Regions from separate parts of the Homo sapiens genome. Here region 2 is linked to region 1. Evidence: fine-mapped expression QTL. A gene starts in region 1. The other region holds a variant in brackets. All regions are shown on one strand. Distances are from middle to middle. Region 1 holds the start of SETD9 (SET domain containing 9). Region 2 has its middle 13 kb from the start of MIER3.

The links. PIP is the estimated chance that this variant, and not a neighbour inherited with it, causes the effect.
Region 2: its variant is fine-mapped to the expression of SETD9 in lung (TOPMed, PIP above 0.99).

Annotation. Positions count from the first base shown.
Region 1 is chr5:56,908,013-56,910,895 of GRCh38, reverse strand. It overlaps SETD9 (SET domain containing 9), which reads right to left and starts at 1,300. Exons shown (of 6, transcript NM_153706.4): 1 at 1,153-1,300. The coding sequence starts at 1,250. RefSeq lists enhancers at 1-639, 735-784, 1,575-1,664 and silencers at 825-1,034, 1,215-1,424.
Region 2 is chr5:56,963,298-56,966,209 of GRCh38, reverse strand. No RefSeq gene overlaps it. Among named protein-coding and RNA genes, the nearest start is that of MIER3, 13 kb to the right of the region's middle. The variant T/C (reference allele first, on the strand shown) is at 1,431.

The DNA.
Region 1 (2,883 bases):
GCAAAATTGTTAGGGAACTTGTTCAAGGTCCCAAAGCCAGTAAGTGGGAGAGCCAGAGGCAGAAACGAAGTTCAGCTCTTTCCCGTACTACACCCAACAGCCAAGCTGAATGTCATCACAATGAGAATGAATGACCTCACATTCAATGGCTTTTTAAAAATGGCCTTGTAGTTTCAAAGACAAATTCAACATCGTATACTTTGTGACACTCCCTCCAGGACGACTAACGTCTTCAATGACTGCACCTCTTATTTCCATAATCATTATCTTTTTGTACTAACTGCATTATTTTTACTTGAACAAAAAGGTTGTAATTCCCGCCTCACGGTTCCGAGTCATGATACAACTGATCTCCTGTTTCCCTAGCATGCAACCTTCCGGAAACCGCTTTGTTTCCCTATTTGTCGGACACTGACTTCAGGGAGGCCCGGTCGGCCTCTTTGGTGAGCACGGTGTTGAGCTGATCACTGGTGCGCCCTTAATAACGCCGGCGGGACTCACCCCAATCCGAAACCCACCATCCCGACGTGCTTTTGAGTGGCGTTCTGCCCGTTCTTAACGCGCGAGCTACTGCACGCTATTCTCACAGCCGGGATGGGCTTCTTTAACCACGTGAAGTACTTGTATGAACTATGAAAATAAACCCTGGCTTGGCTTTTCTGAGGAAGTTCAAGCACCTAATTAACCCCTGGTGGAGAAAAAGCCACGCACTCTCACGCGGTAAGGGCAGTCTTTTTAAAAAGTTTCCATTTTTGCCCAGATACAAGCTCCCCAGTCAGTGCCGAACGCAACAGGGAAGAACAGGCGACACATCCGGCTGGCGAGCTCGGCCTCGCGGGCCCGGCAGCGCAGCGGACACTGGGAAAGAGGCCATAGGCCCCGCCCACCTGAAGCCACCGCCCACTTCAGGCTTCCAGCGGGCCTCGGACTCCACCAACCTCGGCCCCGCCCGCCTCTGGCCCGCGTTCCTTAAACCCCTCCGAGGCCTCAGTCCCCGCCCACCCGGCCCGCCCACCTCAGTCCCTGCCCACCCGGGCCCGCCCATCTCAGGCCGGCAGTCAGCCTCAGGCTCTCCGCTTTGCGTCCCGCCGCCGTGGTGGCGTCTGGGAACCGAAGGCAGGTGCCCCTCGTTCTGCCGTCCCGCCCTCTCACCTCGGGTTGTGGCTTAGGTTCAGTGCGATCCAGGGAACGAAGCGGTACTTGTAACGGCGCCATCGCTGCCACAGGCCCCGCAGCAGACGGCCAGGCATGGCTGCCCCGCGGGGCCGTGACCAGGACGGCGCGGGGAAGGCGGATCGAGGCCTCGGGCCCGCCCCGGCCCGGGAGGAGAGGGGGCCGCGCTCGGCCGCCTTCCCCTGGCTCCGCTCTCAGTGTTCCTGGCACCGCCTGACTTCTGTTGCTCTGGGGCTTCGTCCTTCCCCTTTCCTGACCTCACCTCTCTGAATGAGAGGCGCGTAGAGCTGGAAGGAGGTCCCCTTGACCACTTTTTCTTTCTCCGGTCGCTCGGGTGCTTCCGTGGGCGCACACAAGCGCTAGCCCTGGTTGCGGGCGAAGGGTCACCGGGCCTCAGGGGCGAACCCGCCCCCGAGACCGCGTCCCAGGAGCGGACCGCCTAGTTTCTCTGTCACGGCTGTCTGGCCTGCCCCTTTGTCCCGGCCGCGCTCTGTGTTCCATCCTCCGTCCACTTGAGCTCTGCCTCTTCCTCGACGTTCTCTCCCCTTCTCTCCGTGGCCCCAGAGCAGCCCGACTTCGGGAACCCGAGTTTCAGTCCTCCCCAGACAGCAGCCCTTCTTCTGCGTGAACCCGTGTTCCCAAAGTTACCAGTTTGGGCGTTTTGCGAATATTTACACGTAAAAAAACAAAGTGTCATGATTCCCTGTTTTCACTCGTTTTTCTCTTCATTGACCCAACCATTCAAAGGCAAAACTACATGGACAAATGTTTCTGAAAAACAGCTTTGTTGAGGAATGGTTGGGATACAATAAACTGCACATATTTAAAGTGAACAATTTGATAGGTTTTCGACACCACAGCCAAGATAGTAATCCAGCCCCTCCCCCAGTCCCCAAGCAACCACTGAGGTGCTTTTGTCCTTTTAATATGGTCTTCGCTTCAATTTGGAAACGTTTTGTCTAGAAGTTCTGCATCTGTGTTCGTGAGAGATATTGTTTCGTAGTTTTCTTGTAGTGTCTTAATCTGGCTTTGGTATTTAGGCTAATGTTGACTTCATAGGATGAGGTGGGAAGTAGTCCCCCATAGGTGAAATTTAAAAGGAACTTTACGACCGCTCCTCCCCAACACCCAGATGCATGCACACGCACACACATATTTAGAACAGGTTTGGACAAAGTTCAGTTTTAAGGGGGGCAAACTACAGGAATCCCTTAACCATATTCAAATCACCAAGTGTTTATTGACAGATAAATACGTTGGTATCATTTCCTCTATTCTTTGCCTGAGAGTGAGGTTGGATCCTAAACTATTGAAATTGAACGGCTCAGATCTAATAAAAACTCAGCCAAGGCCGGGCGCAGTGGCTCACGCCTGTAATCCCAGCACTTTGGGAGGCCGAGGCGGGTGGATCCCCTGAGGTCAGGAGTTCGGGACCAATCTGGCCAACATGGCGAAACCCCGTCTTTACTAAAAAAGAACAAATACAAAAATTAGCCGAGCGTTGGTGGCACGTGCCTGTAGTCCCAGCTACTCAGGAGGCTGAGGCAGAAGAATCGCTTGAACCTGAGAGACGGAGGTTGCAGGGAGCCGAGATCCGCCACTGCACTCCAGCCTGGGTGACAGAGTGAGATCCCGTCTCAAAAAAAAAAAAAATTCAGCCAATCGCCAGTAGCTGCGGGACTAATTTGTTCTATTCTGAAAGAAATAAAG
Region 2 (2,912 bases), 55 kb before region 1:
AAACCCAGCTACTTGGGAGGCTAAGGCGTGAGAATTGCTTGAACCCAGGAGGCAGAGGTTGCAGTGAGCCGAGACTGTGCCACTGCACTACAGCATGGGCAACAGAGCCAGACTCTGTCTCAAAAAAAAAAAAGTTAACATGTAAAGATTTCTATTATAAATGTAAACGGTTGCAAAGGATGTAATCCCTGTCATATTTTATATATTATACCTTGCCCTGAAGATTTATCCAATTTGGTTTATAGAAATGTCTGGCATAAATCTTTTTTTTTTTTTTTCTAAGAGACAAGACTCCACTCTGTCACCCAGGCTAGAATACAATGGCACAATCAGAACTCATGGTGACCTGGAACCTCTAGGCTCAAAATGATCCTCCTGCCTCAGCCTCATGAGTAGCTGGGACTACAGGCATGCACCACCACACCTGGCTTGCCCTACAAGATTTTTTTTTTTTTTTTTTTTTTTTTTTGAGATGGAGTCTTGCTCTGTTGCCAGGCTGGAGTGCAGCAGTGGCACCATCTCAGCTCACTGCAACCACCGCCTCCCGGGTTCAAGTGATTCCCATGCCTCAGCCTCCCAAGTAGCTGGGGTTACGGGCACACACCACTACGCCTGGCTAATTTTTTGTATTTTAGTAGAGATGAGGTTTCACCATGTTAACAGGCCAAGATGGTCTCGATCTCCTGACCTCGTAATCTGCCCGCCTCGGCCTCCCAAAGTGCTGGGATTATAGGCGTGAGCCACCGCGACTGGCTGCCCTGCAAGATTTTTATACCCAGATAGTATATTTGGGGTTTGGAAGAGAGGTCACTGTGAAAAGGAGGTGGGAAAGTAGAACTTGCAGAGTGTGGTAAACCAAATTTAGGAGATGGTGCAAATGGAAATGGAAGACATGTTAACCAATCAGCTTAAAGTGACCAGTGCCCACTTGCCCCTGGGAAGCCTATGTGTACCCCTAGGGCAGGTTTTCTCAACCTCGGCACTATTGACCTTTTGGGTCAAATATTTCTTTGTTGTGAGGGCTGGTCTGTGCATTGTAGGATATTTAGCAACATCTCTGACCTCTATTTACCAGAAGCCAGTAGCATTCCTCCACTCAAGTTGTGACAACAAAAATGTCTTCAGACATTGCCAATGTCACCTGGGGGAGCAAAATTGCCCTGGGTTGAGCATCCTAGGGTACTCCAGTTTGAGGACTGTTGCCCTAGAAGATAGCAGCGTCACAGAGCTCCTCTGTTACCTGGGATGGGGGCCCACAATTGCAGTGTAGGACCCAGTTTCCCTTCTTTTGTTAGTCCACAGAAGTGGCACCTGAACCTTATTTCCCAGTATGCTGGCAGCGGCAGGAGTGGAAAGGCAGGAAGCACAGGAGTAAGGGCTGAGTGGTCCTCCTTGCAGGGGTGAGCAGAGTGGGGGCAGTGGTCTTCATC[T/C]TTCATTCTAGCCTTTGAAGCTAAGGAGAAGGTTGGAACCTTCTGTAAATATGGTTTGGCAACTTCGTCAGAGATAACCCTATGAGACCCCAAGAAATACTAAATAAGACTTGTGGAGGGCTGGGGATCTTTTAACAACAGAGAAGGGCAAGCATTAGAAAAATTCATTTTTAGTCTTAAGCCCATTTTTAAAACCCCATTCAAGTACGGTCTAGGGCAGTGCTGCTCAAAGTGTGTGTTTGTTAACTGTTTCCAGTCTCTGACTAGATAAAGACCTACTGCTAAAATACCAATCAACATACTGCTTCCTTCATTGAGACTGTCTTGCTATAAAAAAAAAAAAAAAGTCAGCTGAAATTAGTTTAGTACTTAATGACTTTAGGGCATAGTGACATCATTTATTTACAGTCTTGCTCAAGCTCCTTATCACTGCAGCAGTACACACTTGCAGTAGCTAGGACAATAAATTGAGGGTTTTTAGAGGGTCTTGAAATCAGTACTGGAAATTTCAATCTTTGTTTTAAAAAATCTAGCGACATAGAAAGATATTAGGGTGCATGCTGTTTCAAAAGAATAAGCATTATTTTAGAAAACTTTTGGTGTAAATGTGCACTATATAAACATTCATGTGTACTGTGTCACAATGTAAAAATATATTTCTAACTGTGGATATTGGTCAGAAAATTTTGAAAAGTATTGGTCTAGGGAAACAGGGAAGTACAACTGTGCTGATTTTAGGTGGGATCATAGCCCCCTATGATCCCAGATCTTTTTCAGCTATACAGCAGCAGTAGCTACTAGCAATAATTAATCTATATTCCTCAGTTTGCCCAGGTCCCCTGTGGGTGGCACCTGTACACACCTGGTTCTTACATCTTATTACCTAAGGGTGTTCTCTGGCTGAGACAGTAGGCTTAGCCCTCATGAAGGGCAGGCCGAAAGTGCCCAGGAGTTAATGCCAGGAGCAGCTTTTACTGTGAATGGGAATTGGCAGCTAAAATTCCAGCTATCTCACCCCTTTTAAAAACTTTACAATTCAAAGTTATTACACACCATTCCCTAAGAGGGTCCTCTGTGGGACTGAACCCTTGTTGTTCACAGTGGTACTCTCTTATTAATACACCATTTGTTGGCTTTCTTCCTTCTCTGTTTCAGTTTCCCATTCCCTTGCAATGGGATCATCCTCCAAATAAACTACTTCATCCAAATCTTTGCTTTTTGAAGAACCAGACTGTATTAGTCAATTTTCACACTACTGTAAAGAGATACACAAGACTAGGTTATTTATAAAGAAAAGAGGTTTAATTGACTCACAGTTCCACATGGCCAATAAGGCTTCAGGAAACCGACAATCACCGTGGAAGGGGAAGCAAGGAACTTCTTCATATGGTGGCAGGAGAGAGAGAAGTGCAAGCAGGGGAAATGCCAGATGCTTATAAAACCATCAGATCTCGTGAGAACTCACTATCACAAGAACAGCAC